Homo sapiens: one gene and its partners. The protein of the gene in region 1 purifies or fractionates together with the protein of each later gene. This does not show direct contact. Each region holds a gene or a part of one and is shown in the gene's direction. Other genes may lie near its edges.

The links.
Region 2: the proteins of SLC17A5 (region 1) and COQ8A purify together in Homo sapiens (affinity purification with mass spectrometry; one large-scale study listed by BioGRID and IntAct). This does not show direct contact.
Region 3: the proteins of SLC17A5 (region 1) and XPO5 purify together in Homo sapiens (affinity purification with mass spectrometry; one large-scale study listed by BioGRID and IntAct). This does not show direct contact.
Region 4: the proteins of SLC17A5 (region 1) and ORC4 purify together in Homo sapiens (affinity purification with mass spectrometry; one large-scale study listed by BioGRID and IntAct). This does not show direct contact.
Region 5: the proteins of SLC17A5 (region 1) and INF2 purify together in Homo sapiens (affinity purification with mass spectrometry; one large-scale study listed by BioGRID and IntAct). This does not show direct contact.
Region 6: the proteins of SLC17A5 (region 1) and PTK7 purify together in Homo sapiens (affinity purification with mass spectrometry; one large-scale study listed by BioGRID and IntAct). This does not show direct contact.
Region 7: the proteins of SLC17A5 (region 1) and LRFN3 purify together in Homo sapiens (affinity purification with mass spectrometry; one large-scale study listed by BioGRID and IntAct). This does not show direct contact.

Annotation. Positions count from the first base shown.
Region 1 is NC_000006.12:73,640,493-73,643,992, reverse strand, and holds part of SLC17A5 (sialin), read left to right. Parts: intron 1-2,068; coding exon 2,069-2,302; intron 2,303-3,500. UniProt on the Homo sapiens protein: Multifunctional anion transporter that operates via two distinct transport mechanisms, namely proton-coupled anion cotransport and membrane potential-dependent anion transport.
Region 2 is NC_000001.11:226,964,294-226,967,793, forward strand, and holds part of COQ8A (atypical kinase COQ8A, mitochondrial), read left to right. Parts: intron 1-706; coding exon 707-1,117; intron 1,118-1,377; coding exon 1,378-1,444; intron 1,445-3,500. UniProt on the Homo sapiens protein: Atypical kinase involved in the biosynthesis of coenzyme Q, also named ubiquinone, an essential lipid-soluble electron transporter for aerobic cellular respiration.
Region 3 is NC_000006.12:43,569,539-43,573,038, reverse strand, and holds part of XPO5 (exportin-5), read left to right. Parts: intron 1-460; coding exon 461-533; intron 534-2,044; coding exon 2,045-2,182; intron 2,183-2,354; coding exon 2,355-2,537; intron 2,538-3,500. UniProt on the Homo sapiens protein: Mediates the nuclear export of proteins bearing a double-stranded RNA binding domain (dsRBD) and double-stranded RNAs (cargos). XPO5 in the nucleus binds cooperatively to the RNA and to the GTPase Ran in its active GTP-bound form.
Region 4 is NC_000002.12:147,947,738-147,951,237, reverse strand, and holds part of ORC4 (origin recognition complex subunit 4), read left to right. Parts: intron 1-3,013; coding exon 3,014-3,187; intron 3,188-3,500. UniProt on the Homo sapiens protein: Component of the origin recognition complex (ORC) that binds origins of replication. DNA-binding is ATP-dependent. The specific DNA sequences that define origins of replication have not been identified yet.
Region 5 is NC_000014.9:104,706,618-104,710,117, forward strand, and holds part of INF2 (inverted formin-2), read left to right. Parts: intron 1-292; coding exon 293-434; intron 435-635; coding exon 636-1,385; intron 1,386-1,818; coding exon 1,819-1,970; intron 1,971-2,053; coding exon 2,054-2,115; intron 2,116-2,663; coding exon 2,664-2,766; intron 2,767-3,002; coding exon 3,003-3,088; intron 3,089-3,470; coding exon 3,471-3,500.
Region 6 is NC_000006.12:43,079,314-43,082,813, forward strand, and holds part of PTK7 (inactive tyrosine-protein kinase 7 isoform a precursor), read left to right. Parts: intron 1-3,500. UniProt on the Homo sapiens protein: Inactive tyrosine kinase involved in Wnt signaling pathway. Component of both the non-canonical (also known as the Wnt/planar cell polarity signaling) and the canonical Wnt signaling pathway.
Region 7 is NC_000019.10:35,934,906-35,939,173, forward strand, and holds the start of LRFN3 (leucine-rich repeat and fibronectin type-III domain-containing protein 3 precursor), read left to right. Parts: upstream 1-1,468; 5' UTR 1,469-2,650; intron 2,651-4,268. UniProt on the Homo sapiens protein: Cell adhesion molecule that mediates homophilic cell-cell adhesion in a Ca(2+)-independent manner. Promotes neurite outgrowth in hippocampal neurons.

The DNA of each region.
Region 1 (3,500 bases):
CTGGCCAGTTTCTTAGGACATTCTTTTCTGAATGTACACATGCCCAACCTAAGCCACATAAGTCATTTTGCCTGCCTTATGTTATAGTGGTATTAATAAATGTGTATTCATCATTTGTTTATAATTAAGTTATATATACTTCATTTTATGTTGCTTATCACACGAGGAGATAGTACAGAAAGAAAAGCTAGTATTCTTTTTAGAAGTACATTTGCAGGCTGGGTGCAGTGACTCATGCCTGTAATCCCAGCACTTTAGGAGGCTGAGGCAGGTGGATCACCTGAGGTGAGTAGTTCGAGACCAGCCTGGCCAACACGGTGAAACCCTGTCTTTACTAAAAATACAAAAATTAGCTGGGCGTGGTAGCACACACCTATAATCCCAGCTACTCAGGAGGCTGAGGCAGGAGAATTGCTTGAACCTGGGAGGTGGAGTTTGCAGTGAGCCGAGATCACGCCATTCCACTCCAGCCTGGGCAACAAGAGCAAGACTTCGTCTCAAAAAAATAAATAAATAAAAAATAATAAATTTTTGGCCGGGCGCGGTGGCTCACACCTGTAATCCCAGCACTTTGGGAGGCCGAGGCACATGGATCACGAGGTCAGGAGATCAAGACCATCCTGGCTAACATGGTGAAACCCCATCTCTACTGAAAATACAAAAAATTAGACGGGCGAGGTGGTGGGCGCCTGTGGTCCCAGCTACTCGGGAGGCTGAAGCGGGGGAATGGTGTGAACCCCAAGGGGTGGAGCCTGCAGTGAGCCGAGATCGCGCCACTGCACTCCAGCCTGGGCCACAGCGAGATTCCGTCTCAAAAAAAAAATTTAAAAATAAATAAATAAATAAATAAATAAATTTTCACCCATTTTCAGTGCTCACGAAGATACTAGTTCATACTTAGATGAATCTCCTCTATCATTCACAAGCAGAGCATTCAAGCAGGAAAGAGGGTTTCTCTCTAAACAAAATAAATCTCTCCGAAAATCTTTATATTTGACTTTAATAATGTTGCTGAGTAACATTTGGGTACACATCACTCACTTTCTCCACTCCAACCTGTGACCTTCAGGGACAATACTGCTGGAATGTACATGAAATCCTAGAATTCCACAGATAAACTGCAAATTGGTACCCTAAATAAGGAAAAGTAAGAGTTTGCTTTGTGTCTTTTTCTTTGCAAAGTGCTTTTGTTGACCCTGCTACTTATCTTCATCTGCCTTATATCAGCAGTAGAAAGAAATCCCGGAATGGTTCTTGACATGTTGGCTTTGTTATACAGCTACACTGCATTAAAAATGTCAGATACTCAGATCAGTCACTAAATCTTCATTAGTACCTTGCTGTGTGCTGTTACTAATGAAAACACAGGTTCTATTCACATGAAGTTTGTGGCTTGATTTAAATTCTTGCTCTTTGGAATTGTTCCATGTGCTTGTTTAAGTGCTTCGTCTGAAATGGGGAGATATTATTAATATCTACATTTATGCATGTTAATAGCCAGCACTAAGTGAACACTAACTGTACATCAAGCCTTATTTTATGTGCCTATTTCATTTCCTCTTCCCAGATCACACATTCGGTAAGTAATAGAGCTAGGATTAAAACCAAGCCTGGTTCCCAAAGCCTAGCTCAGCCACTACAGTTTTCTGCTTAATAGCTTTCTGGATTAAGCCTGTGACTCTTTTTTTGGGAGGGGGAGGCAGGGCCGGGGGGGCGGCAGCCTCCCGAGCCATAGTAGGCTCAGAGATACCCAAGCCTTTTTTGTGATTCTTTTGTGAGCCTTCTTGGTCATAGTTATTATAAAGCTTCTGGCAGCTCATCCTGCAGTCTAGTTTTATAAAATTGCAAGCCTTCTTGAAGTTTACGACTGTCAGTTCTTTTTCATTCACTTCTAAATACTGTATATCTATATTGTTATGACTCACCCACCTACTAGAAAGTTTGCATGTTCTTCAGTCCAAAATAGTGGTTCAAAATCTCATTTATATGTACTTACATGCCAGTAAGAGAAAAGAGCTGCTCTGTGAAGGTCTTAAAGGATTGTTTTATTCTTTTCTGATTTTTGTAGGGTAAGAAGTACCAATGGGATGCAGAAACTCAAGGATGGATTCTCGGTTCCTTTTTTTATGGCTACATCATCACACAGATTCCTGGAGGATATGTTGCCAGCAAAATAGGGGGGAAAATGCTGCTAGGATTTGGGATCCTTGGCACTGCTGTCCTCACCCTGTTCACTCCCATTGCTGCAGATTTAGGAGTTGGACCACTCATTGTACTCAGAGCACTAGAAGGACTAGGAGAGGTAATTTTCTTTTCTCTCTTGTTTTACTTCTTACCGTGTGTCTCCTTCTCTTCTTCTTAAAGATGTCATTCTTTGGTATGAATATGAACCAAAAAATAACGTTGGATGATAACAGGGGTTTATTTTTTAGAGAAAGGACTAACTAGAAAATTACCTGAATAGATTTTGTTTGTGGTAAATGAGGTCTCTAGTAGGAGCACCCCGAAATTGGAACCTTTACTCAAAAACCAGAGAAAACTTTTTTCCAAAAGAGACTTCATAGCTCATACTTTAGGAGAGAAGAAAATAAACCATTAATAAATGGTTAAGATAGTCCGGGCGTGGTGGCTCATGCCTGTAATCCCAGCATTTTGGGAGGCCAAGGTAGGTGGATCACTTGAGGTTAGGAGTTTGAGACCAGCCTGGCCAACAGGTGAAACCCCATCTCTACTAAAAATACAAAAATTAGCCGGGCATGGTGGTGCACACCTGTAATTGCAGCTACTCGGGAGGATGAAGTGGGAGAACTGCTTGAACCCGGGAGGCAGAGGTTGCAGTGAGCCAAGATCGCGCCACTGCACTCCAGCCTGGACGACAGCAAGTCTCCATCTCAAAAGAAAAAAAAATGGTTAAGATTGACCATCCTTACCTCTTGTGCTCTTGCCACCGTTAAACTCTGCTCTATCATTGATGCCCAAGTCTGAAGCACATTTTACACAATAGACTGTTGAGTTGCATTTAATTTCTTTTTTATCGCTTATTCTTTTATTTTTTCTGGTCTTGTAACTTAGAGACAAATATTTTATGATTTTATATAACTATCTCAATTTAGTTCTATGATTCTGCTCTTTTTAGAAGTATTATTGATTTTTGCCTCTTTTATTTCCCTCCTCTTAATAGTTTTATCATTTTTTAAAATTTTGATTCTTGTCTTTCTTTTCCTTCCCACTTTTCTTTTGTATTTCATCATGTGTACCCCCATACTTAATAATTTTCACTTTTCCTTTATAACTTCGAACTTCTACCTCTGAAATCCAGGGAATGGTGTATTTTGCTCTCTTGCATTTCTTTAATTCAAGCAAGATAATGGCCACTGGGCTTGGTGTAGAGGATGAAGATTATTTTAAGTAGCAGTGTATCATGCTGTTGGAATGAACACTGGACCAGAGTTTGAATAATAGCTCTATTGTATCTAACAGTGAAACCTTAGGTAAGCTCT
Region 2 (3,500 bases), on another chromosome or scaffold:
ATGAGGAAGTAGCAGAGAAGGGTCAGGAGCTCACTCAAGGTCACTCCTGGTTCAGAAGCAGAAAGGACCTGGGCCCGAAGCTCAGGCCTTGGTGACCATCACAAAGAAAACATGGCGTATCCTCTCCCCTGCCCCTCCATTTCCCTGTACCCTGAGCTCTTAGGGACGGCCAGGCCTGGTCCTGGTTGTAACCACCTCTCCAGTGAGGATCTCTTACATGCATACCCCGGCTGGTGGGTGGCATCCATGTCTGCAGTAAGCTGTGGGCTTAGGTGGGCCCGTCGGTGTGCTTCCCTCACCCCTTGCTGGCCTTAGGCTGTGTGTTCACCTCTCAGAGCTTTCCCTGTCTTTTGCGCCCTGGTTTACCATCTCCAAAGCCCTGGAGGCCTTCTTGGCCCTGTTTTATAGGTGAGGAACCCGCTGCGGGCGTAGTGTGCACTTGGCCTGGCCCCGGCTGGGCACACAGTAGGTGCTCAGTGTCCCACCTAGGACCACACAGCAGAGCCCCAACAGAAGCAGGGCTGGAGCCCAGGTCCCGGCTCCCAGGCTGGGAAGGGTGCCGGGCCTCAGGTGCAGCACTGTGCCACCTCTGGAGGTGGGAGGGGGCGGGATGCTGGTGGTGTGCTGTCCTGGGCAGCAGGGGACAGGCAGGGAGGAGCTCCTGGCTCGCTCTTGCTCTCCTAATGCTGGCCTTTGCTCCCTGCAGGGTCAGGATAAACATGAAGAATATTTTGCTGAGAACTTCGGCGGCCCAGAAGGGGAGTTCCACTTCTCAGTCCCGCATGCAGCCGGAGCCTCCACAGACTTCTCTTCAGCCTCCGCTCCCGACCAGTCAGCGCCCCCATCCCTGGGTCATGCCCACAGCGAGGGCCCAGCTCCTGCCTACGTGGCCAGTGGACCCTTTAGAGAAGCCGGGTTCCCCGGCCAGGCCTCCTCCCCTCTGGGCAGGGCCAACGGGAGGCTCTTTGCAAACCCCAGAGACTCATTCTCTGCCATGGGCTTTCAGCGAAGGTTCTTCCACCAGGACCAATCCCCTGTTGGGGGCCTCACAGCCGAGGACATTGAGAAGGCCCGGCAGGCTAAGGCTCGCCCCGAGAACAAGCAGCACAAACAGACGGTGCGTATGGGAGGCCCCTGGAGGGCCGAGGTAGCTGCCACCCACAGCAGTGATGGCCTTGGGCTCTGCTCTAGGGACTTTTCCTGGGTGCTGTGGTCTGGGGTTTTTAGGAGCGTGGTGGCCTTCTCTTGGTGGAGTGTGCTGTCAGGCGGAGCTGCTGACTGTGGGGTGGAGAGGAGATGTGGGGGCAACAGGAGCCTCTGAAGGTTGGTCCTGTCCCCTTGGCTGATTCCACAGGTCTCTTTCTCGTCTCCCTCCAGCTCAGCGAGCATGCCCGGGAGCGGAAGGTGCCTGTGACGAGGATTGGCCGGCTGGCCAACTTCGGAGGTAAGGTGGCTGTGTGCCCCTGGACTGCCTCACCTGCCCTGCCTGGGCACCACGCTGCGGCCTGCATGGAGGTGGGGACCCAGCAATATCCCGGGGAGGGCGTTGGGGGAGCAGGTGGCGGTGGCCGCCCCTGCATGAGCTTTTGGGGAGCTGGAGTTTTTCATGGGAGGATGATTCAGTTACTGGATTCCAGCTCTGCCTGGCTCTCCCCTGCGGGTTGGTACAGGGCCGATGCTGTGCCAGGAGCTGAGTTTGGATTGCCCGGCAGGCCTCGCCTGGAGGCGGTGTCTGCAGCATCTCTGTTTCACCCCTGCCTCAGGTTCACTACCAGTCGGCTGCTTTGGAGGCCTCTCAGGAAGGAGGCTGGGCAGTGAGGAAAAGCTCTTCCCTGGGGCTGTTCAGCAACTCAGCAGGGCTTTCTTTCCCCCTGGGACCAGACATTTAGGGAGCCCATTTGCTGGGTCCCCACAGGCCTGCGGCTCATGAGTGGAGTGACAAGATGCCATGGCCTCCAGCTGCTGCTGTTTAAAGCCGTTTGTCTGTACTTTGGGGGGTTGAGTTGTCATTGTGCCCAGTACACATGCGCTCTTTTTATAGAAGTTGAAGGGTGATTTTATAGTGAAGGTTTATAGCAGTTGTGTCTGCTTTGATGGCATCATGTTTGTCATGCTGCTGCTAATGCGCTGGCCCAGATGTTCCTGTTAAAGTGCCATCTCCTTTGCTGTGGTACACTCTAAGTTAGTTACTGGGATTGCATTTCTTTAACACTCAGCTGTCCTCAGTAGGTTCTCCAGGTGATATAATTAATGGAAGCCACAGTTTTGGTGGCTTGATTTGGACCCTGACCTTGGGTGAGTGGTTAGTTCCAGGGCTGTAGGCAGCAGAGGTCTGAGTGGTCCATGATGGTGCTGGTGCTGGGTGGGGCATGGAGATGCACTCTCATGGGTCTGCCTGTCTCTTTGCTGGTTTATGTTTTTCCTCCCATACACCATCCATCATACATGCTGTTCCTCCGCTCCTGCCTATTCTCTTTTGGAAACCCCATCCTACTTGTTCAAGACTGGTTCTGGGCAGAGGCTCACGTACTGTGCTCCCCGAGAGCCTGGTATTCTGGGAGCTGCGTAATGTGTGTGGGTTCTGACATTGAATGATGGCTGGCCCCCCTCTCCAAGGTGCTGAGCAGACTTGGTTAACTGGATAGAATTTTCTCAGCAGTAAGGTTTTCTTTCATAATTTTTACCTTAATATTTGGCATCCACTGTACTTAGCCATTCAGGAATTTAGTATGAAGTGTCATCTATGTGACAGCCAAGAGTATTTGCTTATTTCCTTTTCCTGGGGTAACATTTCAAGCAGTCCCTCATAGAATATCACACCTCCCTGAGTTCTGCTGTCAGAATGAGTTTGAGAATCACTGCCTTGGTGGCCTCTAGTGGTCCTTATCCCCTGGAAGACTTGGCATGTTACTTGCTTTGCACATTGGCTTGTCATTGGGTAACATGTATTATTTCTTATTAAAATATTGAATGGAGGCTGTCTTCTTTCCCCATGATATTGAGGGCAGGAGCTACCCTGTTTTCACATCGGTACCTTTTCTCTGTCCCCTCCCTCTTCCTTTCACTCTAGACTCTTGGTGAGCCTGTCCCTGGAAGGCTGAGTTTGACGTGTTTCAGGACTGGTGCAGTCCTCACTTCGGAGTCTTTGTGGGGTGGGGAGAAGCGGTAGAGCTAATGCAGGCTGTTAGGGAAAAGTGGTCAGAATGAAAGTCTTGATGGTGAATTAGAATCTGGTGGAGCACCACGAAGTCCTGGCGAAGGAGGCAGTAGTCAGACCCTTTTGGGTGACGGGTTAAGGAAGACAGAGACTGATGTGGAAGGGGTTATATATAGGAAGATGTGTAGGAAGAAAAAGGTAGAGAGCTCTCCTCAGAGGGTGGGGGATTATGGGTAGCCAGAGGGAGCCTGGGTTAGTGGAGTTGAAGCCCTAGTCTTGGGTGCTTTGTAGCATCAGAAGCCTCTGGAGCCTTTGCTGACACCTGCCTGATGTACGGAGCCAT
Region 3 (3,500 bases), about 30 Mb from region 1:
TCCTAACTTGATTGTCCTACCCTCAACACCTATCAGAAGAGGTAGCCTTTAAGACTTAGCCATAGTTTTTCCAGAATTGTTTTGTAAGCCAGCACAGAAAATGACTGATGTCAAAACTGCATTTTCTGAAAAGCAAGTACATTGTTGCAGTTGACCTAGATGTATATTCACTTTTGGCCCATCAATAAAATCATGAGGCAAAGCTGACGTGTGGTACAAATCTTGTGCGGATTCCAGTTAATGGACCACTGCATATATAAAACCTTTTCCCAAGAATTTTTGTGTTAGTATTTTGGTTAAATGTAGATCATTTTTGCCCATTCATTGACAGGTACAAAATCAAAAGTATAATTTCTTAATGAAATCTCCAGTGTAATCAAATGTAGAAATCCATGCTATTCTCTTGTAAAGACAAGACTTCTAAAGTGGTTCTATTGACTTTATGCATTTTGGTGGTCAGGTTTCGGTGGAACGGCATGTCTCGATTGGAGAAGGTGTATCTGAAGAACAGTGTCATGGAGCTGATTGCAAATGTAAGGAATGGGTGGTTGGGAGACATGTTTCCAAGGTAGTTTAGGCAAAGCGTGACTTCTTCAATAGGGAGTTTGTGTAAAAATTCACTGCTTCTAAATAGGTCAGACAGCACAAGAAATCATAATTTAGGCCAGGCACAGTGACTCACACCTGTAATTCTAGCGCTTTGGGAAGCCAAGGTAAGAGGATCACCTGCATCTAAGAATTCGAGAGCAGCTTGGGCAATGCAGTGAGACCCCATCTCTACCAAAAATGCAAAAATTAGCTGAGCGTGGTGGCGCATGCCTGTGGCCCAGCTACTCAGGAGGCTGAGGTGGGAGGATTTTCTGAGCCCAGGAGGTCCAGGCTGCAGTGAGCTGTGATGGTGCCATGGCACTCCAGCCTGTGCAACAGAGCAAGACCCTATCTCAAAAACAAAACAAAACAAAAGCAGAAAGCATAATTCAGCATATGTCTCTTACTAGGTTTAATTAATCATGCTTATGTATTGACTTCTATTTTTTAAATTATAAAGACAGGGCAGAGGGGATTAAATATTTTCAACAAATCAATAAGATTCTTAGATCTAAATTAGATTGAAACACTATTTTCTTTTATTCCAAACAACTACTATGTGATACTAATGATGAAAAACATGCAGAATTTTAAGTATGCAGAATGAATTTGTTTCAAGTATTAGAATATGACTTTTTTTTTTTTTTGAGACAGAGTCTCTGTTGCTCCGGCTGGATTGCATTAGCATGATCATAGCTCACTGCAGCCTCGAACTCCTGGGCTCAAGTGATCTTCTCGCCTTAGCCTCCCAAGTAGCTGGGATTATAGGCATGTGGTACCATGCCCAGCTAATTTTGTTTTTGGTTTTTAGAGAGACAGGGTCTCACTGTGTTTCCCAGGCTAGTCTGGTCTCAAACCCCTGGCCTCAAGCAATCCTCCCACCTTGGCTTTCCAAAATGCTGAGATTACAGGTGTGATGACTGGATGACTGTCTCTTTAAACACAAAACAGAATATGACTTTAAACATGTTCAAAATTGTAGCCTTTTTTCTTTCTTGGTTTTTTTTAAATAACAGACATGAGAGATGGGATCTTCTAATACTTCTGCGTCTTCTAGTGTTAGAACTATTGGTAAAATATTCATTTGCCCCTTCATACCCTTCCATTTTACCAGCTACTCACTATACTCCTTATTTCTATACTCTTCCTCCCTGGCCTTCTGCAAACTGAAACAATCAATATGAGAATCTTTTCATTTTGTAAAGAATAATGATGTCATCCTAGCTCTCGATATGACAGCCTTTTAGGTGATGCAACCCTCACTTAAGCTTTAAGCGGAAGAGTGATTAGCAAGAATGCAGGACAAGTGACTCAGGCTGAAGAACAGGTTCATTTGTTCTGTTTGGTTTAAAAGTAGGCCTGCTGATAAATTTTTTACAACTCTACAGCCCAGCTTTTTTCTGGAAGTCTGGAATCCAGTCTTGCATATCTCTTAATATCTCTTGTTCTTTTTCAGGGAACATTGAACATTTTGGAAGAGGAGAACCATATTAAAGATGCTCTGTCTCGAATTGTAGTGGAAATGATCAAGCGAGAGTGGCCACAGCATTGGCCTGACATGCTAATAGAATTGGACACTCTTTCCAAACAAGGGGTATGAAACACAGCTATATCAGTTTGGTATACTTTTCCTTGGAACAAACTTCAGGGTTTGTTGTTTGATTTTGTTTGTGGGTTTTTTTTTTTGGCAACAGAAAATAGCCTTTGGATATACATAAAATGAAAAGATATTTTAGTTTTTAACTAGCTTATTTCTATTGGTGTAGGAAACACAGACAGAATTGGTGATGTTTATCCTTTTGCGACTGGCAGAGGATGTAGTGACTTTTCAGACACTTCCCCCTCAAAGAAGAAGGGACATCCAGCAAACATTAACCCAGAACATGGAAAGGATCTTCAGTTTTCTGCTTAACACACTTCAAGAAAATGTAAACAAGTATCAGCAAGTGGTAAGGGATACCCCTACCTATAACATTTCTATTTTCCAATATGAGTGTTTTTGATTAATCTTACAGTAAGGAACTAGGGTGTCTAGGTCAGCAAAATGAAATCCTATTTTATAAGCAAAAAAATAAAAAACTAGGAAATGACAGAAAAACTGGAGCTCATTTTCTTTCTTTTTTTTTTTTTTTTTTTTTTGAGACGGAGGCTCGCTCTGTCACCTAGGCTGGAGTGCAGTGGTGTGATCCCGGCTCACTGCAACCTCTGCCTCCCAGGTTCAAGCGATTCTCCTGCCTCAACCTCCCAAGTAGCTGGGACTACAGGCGCCCGCCACCAGGCCCGGCTGATTTTTTGTATTTCTAGTAGAGACGGGGTTTCACTATGTTAGCCAGGAAGGTCTTGATCTCCTGACCTCATGATCCGCCCGCCTCCCAAAGTGCTGGGATTATAGGTGTGAGCCACGGCACCTGGCCTTTTTTAAAAAAAAAAAAAAAAAAAAAAAAAAAGATAGGGATCTCGGCTTACTGCAGCCTCCACCTCCTGGGATTACAGGCATGTGCCACCACACCTGGCTAATTTTTGTATTTTTAGTAGAGATGGAGTTTCGCTGTGTTAGCAAGGCTAGTCTCAAACTCCTGACCTCAGGTGGTCTACCCACCTTGCTCTCCCAAAGTGCTGAGATTATAGGTGTGAGCCACCGAGCCCAGCCCTAGGTGTTATTCTTAATTTTATTTTCAGAAGTTCTTTAGGAAAATACTAATTTTTTTTTTTTTTTTGGAGAGGGAGTCTCACTCTGTCACCCATGCTGGAGTGCAGTGGCACAATCTCGGCTCACTGCAACCTCCGCCTCCTGGGTTCAAGCGATTCTCCTGCCTCAGCCTCCCGGGTAGCTGAGATTACCGGTGCCTGCCACCATGCCCGTCTAATTTTTGTATTTTAGTAGAGATGGTGTTTCACCATGTTGGTCAGGC
Region 4 (3,500 bases), on another chromosome or scaffold:
CACATTTACATGTTCACATCTCCTTTCCTACAACCCTTTTTCTTTTTCAGAAAAGTGAAACTTTTTTCTAATTCATATTTCAACAGTCCTCCTTCCAGTGCTGTTTCTCTATAGAGTGACTGTCATTTGCCCCTCCTTTCCTGTGCTCTAGAGCTTATGATACATGGCTTTAGTATAAACATCCCTCATACATCACTGGCTGGTGCTCCACATATCTTTATTCCTCCTTGCCAAAAGCAGCAGGCGATGACAAGGATCAAAGAAGCATCCTCCTTCTTGCCAAAAAAAAAAAAATCTTCCTTTGGGTGGAAGTGGCTGTGGTGAGTGTTGTTGACCCAATAACGGACCAAATAAAATGCCAGTAACTTCTTAGCAGTGTTATCAGATGTTCTTTTTTATTGTATATATATAATTCTCCAACTGTGTAGTTCTTTCAAGTGTAATTTTTTTTCTTTTTCTTTTTTTTTTTTTTTGAGATGGAGTCTTGCTCTGTCGCCCAGGCTGGAGTACAATGGCATAATCTCGGCTCACTGCAACCTCCACCTTCGGGGTTCAAGCAATTCTCCTGCCTTAGCCTCCCGAGTAGCTGGGATTACAGCCACACACCGCCATGCCTGGCTAATTTTTGTATGTTTAGTAGAGATGGGGTTTCACCATGTTGCCCAGGCTGCTCTCGAACTCCTGACCTCGTGATCTACCCCCCTTGGCCTCCCAAAGTGCTGGGATTACAGGCGTGAGCCACTGCGCCTGGCCTCAAGTATAATTTTATCTGTGTATCCACGTTTATAGGGAGAGAACAAAAGTATAGAGGGAGTAGTGACTTTGCCAGCAAGCATCTTCTTCCCCATTGGGAGTAATTCCATTTTTGTTTTTTGGTTTTGTTTTGTTTTTACTAGTTCCTGTATGCCCACATTGCCAACTTCTGTCATTACTGCCTACTACAAAGACAGTATTTACTTCCATCTCTTTTCATTCCCAAATTTAGGGTCTGAATTGTTGCTTGTATAGATTATTACTTCCACTGTCTACCTATATGGGTGACCTAGAACTCTTTCTTAATAGAAAATAAATGTACAATATCTGAATCTCTGAATATAACCTTTCTTGTCTTTTAGTTCTCATGCTGGCACTATACTTTTCTTTGACCTCATAAAAACATTCAAAATTTTTTATTCACCCTCCCACCTCCTACCTCAGGCTATTAGTCTTTCCTGTCCACCTTCCCAAACTAACCATGATCCCATTTTGATCACTTGAATTCTTTCCTCTATATCATGATTTCTTCACGTAGGTATTATGAGAGTCATCTGGCTAGATGTGGAGATGTATATTTCTGGGCTTAAACTACTCCCCTTTTAAAAATCTTTATAACATTTCAACAATATACATAGGAAAGAATAAATAATGAGCCCTGAATTCCCTTCTCCACTCATTGCCAAGATTCAATTACTACAGACTAATTTTATTTATCCTCAACATCTCCTTTCATTCCTGTATTATTTTGAGGCAAAAACTAGGTATTATATCATTTTATCAGTAAGTATTTTAGAATGTATTTTTAGGAGATAAGAGCTCTTTAAAAATATATTTCCCTAATATAATTGTTATATTAGCTGTAATTCCTTAAAGTCATCAAATATCATGTCACTGTTTTTAAAACAGCTTTATTGAGATGTAATTTATACCATACAACTCACTCATTTAAATTATACAATTAACAGGGTTTTTGTTTATTCATAGAGTTGTGCATTTATCACCACAGTTTAAGAGCCACGTACCTTTTAGTGATCACCCCAAATCCCCTGTTCCCTCCCCAGCCCTATGCAACCACTAATCTGCTAATCCACTTTCTGACTGTTTAGTAATTTTTGAATCATACAACGTATAGTTTTGTGTGACTGGCTTCTTTAACATGTTTTCAGAGTTGATCTGTGTTACAGCATATATCAGCCCTTTATTCCTTTTTATTACCAAATAATATTCTGTTGTGTAGATATACCACACTTTGTTTATCCATTCATCAGTTGATGGACATTTGGGTTGTTTATATTTCTTAAGCTATTAAAAATAATACTGCTGCAAACATTCACATACACTTTTTTTGTGGTTATCTGGTTTCATTTGTCTTGGTTGTATACCTTGGAGTGTAACTTAAGTAATAAATATATATTATACTATACTGTATATATATAGATGTATATATACATATATAATATAAATTATATATATTATATATAATATGCTGTGTACTATAATATATTTTGAAAAATTGCTCAAGTTCATTATTAAAAAGAGATTTAGGAATGACAGTTCCTGCAATATATGTGACTTAGGAAGACAGCTTACCTATTGTGCTTTTGATGTCTTGGATAGTTTGAATGCCTATCAGTTTTGTGGAAGTATTTTCTTCATTTAAGAACACTTCGTATGTCCTTACAAGCAGTACATATTAGTTATCCTTTGGTTTTTAGTGTTCTTTGACAGTAAATTTGATTCCTGATTTCTTTTTAAGGAAAAATAGCACAAATACAAATAGAGTCTAAAAGCATTACTATAAAAAAAAAAAAGCCGGAAGATAACTTACGAATGCCATGTTGCATTTCTGCCACTTTCCTCTCCTAAAGTTGGTTCCTGCTGCCTATCATGCTATTAATTTTTTAATCTCAGTTCTTCATAGAATGTACAGAATTCCTTATTGACACTCTTGGTGTTATTGTGACATATAGCTATTCAATATTGTCAGTTTTTTTAAACAGTCATGTTGGGTCTTGGAATGTTACAGATTAGCTGAGAGTAACATGGTGGGAAAAAGGCATGACATCACCAAGCCAGCAAATGCCTGGAGGTGGATTATTTAGTTTGCATAAAATGTTTTAAATGTTTAATTATGTATTGTAGACTAAACATTACTAATTATAGGTGATAGTTTACTTATACCTCTAACATTGGTACAGTGTTTTTGTTTTTTTAAAAACATTCATCTTCCTTATAGAGATTTCTGTTTGTTTTTAAGGATATTTTGGAACTCTTAGAAAAAAGAGTGAAGTCAAGATTTTCTCACCGGCAGATACACTTAATGAATTCATTTGGTTTTCCACAGTATGTTAAAATATTTAAAGAACAGTTATCTCTACCTGCAGAGTTTCCAGACAAGGTTTTTGCTGAGAAGTGGAATGAAAATGTTCAGGTATCTTAAAAGGCAATAAAGCTAAATGTTCCTTGCTATATGATTTAAAGCAATTAAAACACAAATTTTAGAAATTAGTAAATTAACACAAAGTTTCTAATATTGCTGAAGGATAATGCTGCAGTAATACAAATTATATACTTTTTAAAAATTTTCTTCTTAGACAGTTGAAATGTCATTTCTCCTAAATTCTATCTCAAAAGAACATCACAGTTAAGCTTTAGGATTTATGTTATTAGTTTGAAGTAAACTTTAATGAGGCTTTAGTTTTATCTGTATGTGGTTTATATTTTAGATAATTTTATTTTATATA
Region 5 (3,500 bases), on another chromosome or scaffold:
TGTGTCCCCAGGTGGCATCTGGCAACATCTGAAGACATTTTTGGCTGCCACGGCTGGGCAGGGGGTGCTGTTGGCATTGAGTAGGTAGAGACCAGTGGTTCTGTTTAACATCCCATAATGCACAGGACAGTCCCACATGTCACCAGTACCACAGTCGCTGAAACTCTCATCTCTAGGGATCCGTGGGAATAGAGGGGGTGATGGGGCTGGACACCCTGGCAGACAGGCCACAGTCCTTAGTCCACCAGGGAGGGGCCGGCTGCTGACCTGCACCCCACACTCGCCCGTCCAGGTGAGCTGCTCCCCGGTGTCTGCCCAGCTCCTGTCGGTGCTGCAGGGCCTCCTGCACCTGGAGCCCACCCTCCGCTCCAGCCAGCTGCTCTGGGAGGCCCTGGAGAGCCTCGTGAACCGGGCCGTGCTCCTGGCCAGCGATGGTGAGGGGGCGGGGCAGGGGCGTAGGCACAGCCTGGTGGGCAGACACTGAGGTCTTAGACCATGGGGGGGGGAGCCTGCCCTTGGCCCCAACCCATCCTCTGCCCAGGGGAGGTGGCCGCTTTTTCCTGCCTCTTCCTCAAGCCCCCATCCCTCCCTCTCCGGCTCCCTTCTCCCTTGACCCTGGACATCCCCTACTGCAGCCCAGGAATGCACCCTGGAGGAAGTGGTTGAGCGGCTCCTGTCTGTCAAGGGGCGACCCAGACCGAGCCCCCTGGTCAAGGCCCATAAAAGCGTCCAGGCCAACCTAGACCAGAGCCAGAGGGGCAGCTCCCCGCAAAACACTACAACCCCCAAGCCCAGCGTGGAGGGCCAGCAGCCAGCAGCAGCTGCTGCCTGCGAGCCCGTGGACCACGCCCAGAGTGAGAGCATCCTGAAAGTTTCGCAGCCCAGAGCCCTGGAGCAGCAGGCGTCCACCCCACCCCCACCCCCACCCCCACCCCTGCTCCCTGGTTCCAGTGCCGAGCCCCCTCCCCCTCCCCCACCACCCCCCCTGCCCAGTGTGGGGGCTAAGGCCCTCCCAACAGCACCCCCGCCCCCACCCCTGCCAGGCCTGGGGGCCATGGCCCCCCCAGCACCTCCTCTACCACCACCCCTGCCAGGCTCCTGTGAGTTCCTGCCCCCACCACCTCCACCACTCCCGGGCTTGGGATGCCCGCCCCCACCCCCACCCCTGCTGCCTGGTATGGGCTGGGGCCCTCCTCCACCCCCACCTCCACTACTGCCCTGCACCTGCAGCCCCCCCGTGGCGGGAGGCATGGAGGAGGTCATCGTGGCCCAGGTGGACCATGGCTTGGGCTCAGCATGGGTCCCCAGCCATCGGCGGGTGAACCCACCCACACTGCGCATGAAGAAGCTGAACTGGCAGAAGCTGCCATCCAACGTGGCACGTGGTGAGGGTCCCCAGACCCCCAAGGGAAGCTTCCCCTAGGACGGGGGCTGGTCTCTGCTGGGGAGAGGGGCAGGTGGCACATGGAACTTGTGTGCGCGTCCTGCCCGTGCGTGGCCAGGGCAGCCTGGCCCTTGCTCTGGGCTCGGCGCCTGTGGTTGAGGTGGGGACGGGGGAGGAGCAGGGCAGGGGCTACCTCTGAGGACCCCCCTCCACATGCTCCCGTGAGCCAGTGCATCTGGGGTGCCATGGTGCCCTGGGGCCCTGCTACAGGTGCTCAGGTAGGGAGGTAGGGTGCCTGCTGTACGCTGGACCTGGACCTACTGGGCCCCAGGCAGGACATCCTTTAGACCCTCTGGGAGGCTCCAGCCCCTGCCTGCTGGATCGCCAGGCCCCGGGGCTGCGAGAGCCTCACTGGCCGTGTCCCCACCCGACAGAGCACAACTCTATGTGGGCGTCCCTGAGCAGCCCCGACGCCGAGGCTGTGGAGCCCGACTTCTCCAGCATCGAGCGACTATTCTCCTTCCCTGCAGCCAAGCCCAAGGAGCCCACCATGGTGGCCCCCCGGGCCAGGAAGGAGCCCAAGGAGGTGGGGACGGGGAGGGGACTCAGACCGGGGCCGCCTGCCTGGCCACCCTCCGGTACCAGCCTGTTGGGTGGGGGGTTTTCTAGATCACTTTCCTCGATGCCAAGAAGAGCCTGAACCTCAACATCTTCCTGAAGCAATTTAAGTGGTGAGTGAGGGAGGTAGCCCCCATCCCAGGCCACGGAGCCTCGCCTCCACCTGAGCCTTCTGACTTGGGCCCAGCAGTGCCCTCTGCAGGCCGCCATGGGAAGTGCACACTGCATCCCCTAGGCAGGATTGTAGGCGGGTAATAGCCCCATGCTGCCCCAGCTAGGGGCTGTCCAGGCTCCCAGGGACAGAGCGCTGGGACCTCCCCCCACAAGGCCACAGACAAGTAGTGGCTAAACCAGTGGGCCCTGACTCTCAGCCCCCGAGTCCTTTCCTGCTGCGGGTGTCCAGCACTGGCCCGAGGGAGCTGGCTGGACCCGACCCATCCTGCATCTCCTGAGCAGGGCCCATGGAGGGTAGCGAGGGTGGGAGTCAGCCTGGGTCCCCTTCACCGCGTGACCGTGGGCAACAACTCGACTGTTCTGTGTCCCCCCTGCCCTGGCCACCCCATGACTACGTGGGGAAACCCTGCCAGGTGGGGTCCCAAAGAGGCTGGGTGGGGGTGACTCATGATTCACTCACCCCTGCCCGGTCCTCTCCCTGCTCCAGCTCCAACGAGGAGGTCGCTGCTATGATCCGGGCTGGAGATACCACCAAGTTTGATGTGGAGGTTCTCAAACAACTCCTTAAGCTCCTTCCCGAGAAGCACGAGGTAAGAGGACCACCCCCACACCCCACCCCCAGTTAGTGCCACCAACCAAGGGAGAGGCTGTCCCGGGGGCTCCCAGCAGGGAGACAGAGAAGGGAGGCATCCCAGCCCTACCTCTGCCCTGAACCGTGAGCCACAGGGAGCCATGATGGGCACTGGAGGGGCTGAGCCCGGCGGGCAGTCCGGGAGGGCGGGAAGCTGGCATGGGGGGATCCCACATGCCGTTCTCCTCCTGGCAGATTGAAAACCTGCGGGCATTCACAGAGGAGCGAGCCAAGCTGGCCAGCGCCGACCACTTCTACCTCCTCCTGCTGGCCATTCCCTGGTGAGCATGGCCGCCCTCAGACCCCAGGGCCTGGGCCCCAGGTGGGAGGAGAGCAGGAATAGGGAGCAGGGCCCAGCCAGGGAGGAGAAGAGGCTGTGCCAATGGCTGCCCCGGGCTCCAGGAGCAGCATTGCAGCGGTTGGGCTTCTAAACATCACTCGAGCCCCACCCCCAGTCCTTCCCCTCAAAGTGTGGGGCTGGAGGCCTCTGGAGGAATTGGATCCTGCTCTGCGCAGGCCCGGGAGGGTGCCTGTTGGATGGGGCAGGCGGTGGAAACCCCCTCCCTTTGCCCACCACCCAAGCCAGAGCCCTGTGCTGAGTGCCCCTCTGGCAGGGACAGGTGGGGGGTGCAGGCCACTGATCCCTGTCTGTGCCATCCCCAGCTACCAGCTGCGAATCGAGTGCATGCTGCT
Region 6 (3,500 bases), about 31 Mb from region 1:
AAAATTAGCCAGGCGTGGTGGCGGGTGCCCGTAGTCCCAGCTACTCGGGAGGCTGAGACAGGAGAATGGCCTGAACCCGGGAGGTGGAGCTTGCAGTGATCGTGCCACTGCACTCCAGCTTGGGCGAGATCGTGCCGAGATCGTGCCACTGCACTCCAGCTTGGGTGACAGAGCGAGACTCCGTCTCAAAAAAAAAAAAAAATCCAAGGGTGCTCAAGTCTCTTATATAAAATGGTGTCGTATTTACATATAACGTACACACAACTTCCCTGTATACTTTTGTTTTGTTTTGTTATGAGACAGGGTCTCCTCTATCACCCAGGCTAGAGTGCAGTGGCACAATCTTGGCTCACTGAAGCCTCAAATTCCTGGGCTCAAGCAGTCTTCCTGCCTCAGTGCTCTAAAGTATGAGGATTACAGGCATGATCCACTATGCCCAGCTTCTCCTGTATACTTTAAATCATCTCTAAGGGCCAGGTTTACGCCTGTTATCCCACCACTTTGGGAGGCAGAGGGAGGAGGATCGCTTGAGCCCAGGGGCTCAAGACCAGCCTTGGCAACACAATGAGACCTCCACCTGTACAAAAAAAAAAAAAAAATTGCCAGGCATGGTGGCACGTGCCTGTGGTCCCAGCTGCCCAGGAGACTGAGGTGGGAGTATTGCCTGAGCCCAGCAGGTTGAGGCTACAGTAAGCCATGATTGTGTCACTGCACTTCGGTCTGGGTGACAGAGTTCAAAAAAAAAAAAAAAAAAAAGGGCAGGATGCAGTGGCTCACGCCTGTAATCCCAGCACTTTGGGAGGCTGAGGTGGGCGGATCATGAGGTTAGGAGAGCGAGACCATCCTGGCTAACATGGTGAAACCCCATCTCTACTAAAAATACAAAAAATTAGCCAGGCGTGGTGGCAGGCGCCTGTAGTCCCAGCTACTTGGGAGGCTGAGGCAGGAGAATGGCGTGAACCCGGGAGGCAGAGCTTGCAGTGAGCCGAGATTGCACCACTGCACTCCAGCCTGGGTGTCAGAGCGAGACTCTGTCTCAAAAAAAACAAAAAAATCTGTAAATTACTTGTAATACCTATTACAATGGAAATGCTATGTAAATAACTGTTGTATTCTTTAATTTGTATTCTTTTTTATTGTTGTATTGTTTTTAATTTTTATCTTCCCCCAGTGTTTTTGATCCTCTGTTGAGGGATGTGGAGCCCAGGGATAAGGAGTATATCTGGCAAAGCAGCAACTCAGACTCATTGGCAGGCCCTGTGGCCCTGGATGAACCTCTTAGCTTCTCAGCCTCTTCTATAAAGGGACATCCTAGAGTTGTGCTGAGGATTAAGTATAATGAAGTAGGCCGGGTGCAGTGGCTCACATCTGTAATCCCAGCACTTTGGGAGGCCAAGGCAGGCGGATCACCTGAGGTCAGGAGTTCAAGACCAGCCTGGACAACATGGTGAAGCCCCGTCTCTACTAAGAATACAAAAATTAGCTGGGTGTGGTGGCACACACCTCTAATCCCATCTACTCAGGAGGCTGAGGCAGGAGAATCACTTGAACCCGGGAGGTGGAGGTTGCAGTGAGCCGAGATCGCGCCGCTGCACTCCAGCCTGGGCGACGGAACGAGACTCCGTCTCAAAAAAAAAAAATACACACACACACACACACACACAGCCCTTTCTTGGTCTTCCCTCTGTGGTGTGCTTCAAAGATTCCTTCAGCTTTACAGTCATTCCCAACAATAGACATTTTACCTACTGGGACCCTCCATTCCAGTCCAGCTGGAATATTTGCCATCTCCTAACACATATCTGGTTTTCTCCCACCTTTCTTTCCTTCGGGCCAGTCCCCGGTTGTACATTGCCTTCTCCTGTCTCTCTGTTGCCCAGCCCCACCGCCTCTTCTTCCCTGAAGCTGTCCTATCTCTCCTGCCAGAAGGTAGACACTGTAGAACTTCTGGACTGTCATTCTTGCGACACCATCCATATTTTTGCCCCTATTGGGTTTTGTTTTAATTTACTGAGGGGCTCTCCCATAGAGTTTAGTACAGTACTTATTTATAATGGGTTCTTATGTAGGTGGTTTTTTTGTTTGTTGTTTGTTTGTTTTTGTTTTTTTTGAAATGGAGTCTGCCTGTGTCTCCCAGGCTGGAGGCATTGGCACGATCTTGGTTCACTGCAACCTCTACCTCCCAGGTTCAAGTGATTCTCCTACCTCAGCCTCCTGAGTACCTGGGTTTACAGGTGTGTGCCACTGCACCCAGCTAATTTTTGTATTTTTAATAGAGACGGGGTTTCCCCATGTTGGCCAGGCTGGTCTCGAACTCCTGACCTCAGGTGATCTGCCCACTTCAGCCTCCCAAAGTGCTGGGATTACAGGCGTGAGCCACTGCACCCAGCCGATATAACAGGTCCTCATATAGGTTTATTTAAAAAGTGAATGAACCATTTGGGTGCAGGGCAGAATGATCAAGGGTGGAGTTAAATATCCCCTTGCATCCTAGGCATGGGGAGTCTTTTGCACCCTCCCCAGCTTCTTTGAGTTGGGGTTGCCTGTTCCTCCTTGCGCCTGCTCTACGGTGACCAAATTAAGGATCAGACCTTCCTTCCCTGATCCTGGGCTGGCTGGTTTTGGTGGTGGTTTTTCTCAGTTTTGATGTGGTGGGTCTTCTAGCTTTCTCCAAGTTCTGTGCGTGGGTAAGCACCGCTACGTATGAAGCTGACTGCAACTTAAAAACTGGTGCTAAAGTTGCTTCCTCAGAGAACTGGGTAGGGGCCTAGAGTATCTATAACTGTGCTACTTGAAGAAAGACCCAGGGCCACGTGGCATCAGCATTCCTGGGAGCATGAATCAGAATCGCAATCTGCAATTTATTTATTTATTCTTTTTGAGATGGAGTCTCACTCTGTCGCCCAGGCTGAAGTGCAGTGGCACGATCTTGGCTCACTGCAACCTCCACCTCCTGGGTTCAAGCGATTCTCCTGCCTCAGCCTCCTGAGCAGCTGGGATTACAGGCGCGCACCACCACGCCAGGCTAATTTTTTTGTATTTTTAGTAGAGACAGGGTTTCACCATGTTGGTCAGGCTGGTCTCGAACTCCTGACTTCATGATCCGCCCACCTCAGCCTCCCAAAGTGCTGGGATTACAGGCGTGAGCCACCGTGCCCTGCTGCAATCTGCATTTTAACAAGATGCTCAGGTGACTCTGTACCCCAGAGTTCCAGAAGTCCTGGCCTAGGCATCCTTCTTTATACAGAATCTCAAGGCACAGAGCTTTCCTGTTGCAACAGTATAAATTGGGAGCTGAGATGCTGCACAGTATTTGAAGATTTGCTTTAAATAACTCACTTTATGCGAACACTCCTTGGGGTGATGTGTACGCTTTAATATTACCTCCTTTGGGTTTAAATTGAATTAGATTTTGTCAAGAAATTTCTCCATTAAATGTGTGACTCTAGGAAGTCTGCAATATTCAGCCTGATGTTTAGCTCCTCTCAGAACCTCAGCTT
Region 7 (4,268 bases), on another chromosome or scaffold:
GCCTGGGAGGGAGGATTGCCTGAGGCCAAGAGTTCAAGACCAGCCTGGGCAGCATATTGAGACCCTGTCTCTACAAGAAATTTTAAAAATTAGCTGGATATGGCGATGCATGCCTGTAGTCTCAGTTACTCTGGAGCCTGAGGTGGGAGGATTGCTTGAGCCCAGGAATTTGAGGTTGCAGTCAATTATGATTGCACCAATGTACTGGGTGACAAAGCAAGACCCTGTCTCAAAAAAAAAAGTATGGTCTTTGAAAAGTCACATTAGCATCACCTGGGTACTCGTTAAAAATGCAAATGTTTGGGTCCCACCTCAGACCCACTGAACCAGAAACTCTGAGGTTGGGACCTGGAGATCTATGGTGCCCCCGGGTGATCCTGGTGGGCTGCACTGCAAGGACACCTGGCCTGGCTCCTGCAAGGCAAGGCATCCCTCTCTGCTTTTCTTTCTTTCTTTCTTTCTTTTAAAGACAGAGTCTCACTCTGTCACCCAGGCTGGAGTGCAATGGCTGGATCTCAGATCACTACAATCTCCACCTCCCGGGTTCAAGCAATTCTCTTGCCTCAGCCTCCCGAGTAGCTGGGATTACGGGCGTCCGCCACCACACCCGGCTAATTTTTGTATTTTTAGTAGAGACGGGGTTTCTCCATGTTGGCCAGGCTGGTCTCCAACGCCTGATCTCAAAAGATCCGCCCGCCTTGGCCTCCCAACGAGCCGGGATTACAGGCGTGAGCCACCGCCCCCGGCTGTCAGTGTGTCTTGAGGTCTTTCCCTAATCCCAGATGGCACAAGTTTTCCCTCTTGCAGGCAGAGAAAGGAGCCTTGGGAAGGAGCCCCTCTGGCCTGAAAGATCAAGCCTATTGCTGGGCATGGCCAGGTAAGGAAACTCCAACCGTGGAAAGGACATTCCAGGGAGGTGGTGCTGAGATAAGGGGGGCAGAAAGAGACAGGTTTGGGGGGCCAGTGGCTCTGGAATGAAGCGCTACACTCAAGGCTAGGAATAGTTACTGAATGCACATACACACATACCATTCTCACAGCCCAGGTGCTGCGTCTTAGAGCGTGTGAGTGTGTATGTGTGTGTCTGTGTGTGCGCGCGCACGCACGTCTCTATCTCTGTTTCTGTCTTTCTCTGACTTGTCCTTATCTCTTGTCTCTCCATCACTCTCTGTGTCTCGCTGTCTCTGTGCATTTCCATGTCTCGAATATGTGTGTGTTTCAATCTGTCTCTCTGCCTCTTTCCATTTTCTCCTCTCTATCCATCAATCTAAGCCTGCCCATCTTTTTGTCTGCCTTTCTGTATCTCCGTTCTTCTCTGTCTCTCTGTCTCAGTCTCTCTGTATCCAGGGATTCTCTTTCCCAGCAGCGCCAGTGCGACTCCATGGGAGGTGGGGCCGGGGCGCGTCTTTGAGAGAAGGGGCGGGTGCCTACGCCTTTAAGCGCGGGTGCGCGCGGAGCCTGCGCCTTTAAGCGCCGGTGCGCGCGCTGCCCTGGGTTGCCGGCGAGGAGGCCGCGGGAGCGCCTGGACCCGGCCCGCCCAGCCCGGCCCCCGCCCGGCCCCCGCCTCGGCCCCGGCGGGGGAGGGGTCTCTGAGCGCGGCCCCTCCCCCCTGCGCCCCCGCCTGCGCTGCGGTGCCCCCATCCCGCGTGTCCCAGTCTGTCTGACCGTCCCTCCGCTCCCAGGCCTCGCCCCACCCGGCCCTGGGGCTGCCCGGTCGCCCCCCTCCCCACCGCAGCCGGTCCCCTCCCTCCCAGTCAGCCTCCGCCGCAGCCCAGGAAGCCAGCCGGGACGCCGCCGCCCCGGACCCCGCGCCCTAACCTCCACCTCGGGGGCCTGCACCCCCAGATTGAATCGGGAATTCCGGAAACCCGAGCCTGGAACCCTGATCTGGGACCAGCACCCCGAGATCCGGCCGTGGAACCCCAAGATCTGGAGCCTGAACCCCAGTATATGGGGCTGGAATCTCAACATCGGTCACTGGGACCTCAATATTTGGAGCCGGAACCCCACAATTTGGAACACAGACCCCAATATTTGGAGCAGAACCCCAAGATTTGACATCTAAAACCTCAAGCCTGGAGCTGAACTCTGAATTCTGGGCCTGGGACCTTGAAATCTGGGACTGGATTTCCAGTACTGTACCCTGGAACCCACTCTTGGGGACCTGAACCCTGGGATTCAGGCCTCAAATTCCAAGATCTGGACTGTGGGATTCCAAGGGGCCTGAACCCGAGTTTGGGCCTGAAGTCCTTGCTGCAGACCTGAGTGCTTAAATCTGGGGCTTGAGACCTCCCAATCTTGACTCAGCACCCCAATATCTGAATGCAGAACCCCGGGATCGGATCTCAGACTCTAAACCCCACCGTTTGGCTGCTTAGCATCCCAAGACTGGACCTGGGAGACCCTGACCCTGAACAACCCAAACTGGACCCGTAAAACTGGACCCTAGAGGCCCAATATTTAGGGGTCTGGAACCCCGAGTATTAAGGTCTGGAGACTCCGTTGCCACAGATTTGAGCCGAGTCAGGACACAGTCCCTCTACAGAAGCCTTGGGGACAGGAAAAGCATGACCAGATGCTCCCTCCAGAGCCCTGACCTCTGACTCCCCTGGAGCTAGGACTCTGCTCCCTGGGGCTGCTTCTAGCTCAGGTAAGGCTGCTGAAACCTCAAGGTGGGGACGGGCTGGGAGGAGCATTGTGGCTGCGGGTTACGGTACCAGGTACCCTTTGACACTCTTGGGGTTTCTCCAGAAAAAAAGACATTCCCCCATGGGTCTGCCTTCAGCTCCTGCTCTGCTCCAAACACTCTCTGGACACTGGCCATCCTTGCCCCTCTCTGACCTTCCCTGCCTCAGTTGATGGGACCTCCAGGTCTCTGACCCCTGCAACCCTTACAGCCTTTCGCTGTCTATCCGGTCCGACCGTCTCCGCCACCTCTCTTGTCCACCACTCCTCTCTCTGGGCTCCTTTCTCCACCTGTCCTCTCAATGGCCATCTCTGTTCCCTTTTTCTCTCTCTGATCATCTTTGTGACACCCCTGTCCACAGGTCCTCTCTCCAGTCGCCTCTGCCTGCTGCTTCTCAGTGACCATCGCTGACATCTGTGTCCACTGTGCCTCTCTCTAATCATCATTCACCAGCTCTCTTGCTCCTTCTCCACCCCTGAATCTAAGCCTAGGTCTGTGACCGTCCCCATCCATCTTTGACATTGCTGTCCACCACTCTTCTCTCCAGCAGCCTCTGTCCATCTCTCCTCTCTAGCTTCCTCTGGCCACCTTTCCCTTTCTCTGGCCATCTCTCCCACTGCTCTTGCCCTCCTCCCACCCCTGACCCTAACTCCCAGTCTGCAACTGTCTGACCATCTCTGGCCACCTCTCCTCTCTCTCTCACTCACTGATGCCCTCTGATCATCTCTGGCCACCTCTTCTCTCTCTCTCACTCATTGATGCCCTCTTGATCATCTCTGGCCACCTCTTCTCTCTTTCTCACTCACTGATGCCCTCTTGATCATCTCTGCCCACCTCTTTTCTCTCGCTCGCTGATGCCCTCTGATCATCTCTGGCCACCTCTTCTCTCTCTCTCACTCACTGATGCCCTCTGATAATCTCTGGCCACCTCTCCTCTCTCACTTGCTGATGCCCTCTGATCATCTCGAACATCTCTGCTGCCTTTCCTCTCTCCGATGACCTCTCCCCGCACCATCCTCCTGAGCAGCTGTCCTGGGCTCCCACTGACTCTGCCATGTCTGTCCTTTTCCTCCTCTCTGACCACCTTGCTGGCTTTGGGCCGTTTCTGACCACGTGTCTCTGACATGGTCATCTCCCCCAGATCTGAGCCCAACCCATGCCCTCCCTTCTCTTTGTCCACTGCTCATCTTCCTGACCATCTGTAACCCCTTCTCTTCTCTGGTCATATCTGACCACTTCTGATCATTGTTGCCACCCTGGCTGCCCCGTCTCCCCATGGCCAGCTTTTACCATCTCTGACCACGTCTAAAGCCCTCTGGTTTTCCTGCCACTCACCCAGACCAGCTGTCATTTCTCTGACCATTTCTTTACTTTTTTCTTTTGGAGAGACAGAGTCACGCTCTGTTGCCCAGGCTGGAGTGTGGTGGCGCAATCATAGCTCACTGCAGCCTCAAATTCTTGGGCTCAAATTGATCCTCCCACCTCAGTGTCCCATGTAGCTAGGACCACAGGTGGGCGCCACCATGCCTAGCTAATTTTTAAAAATTTTTGTATAATAGATACACGGTCTCACTTTGTTGCC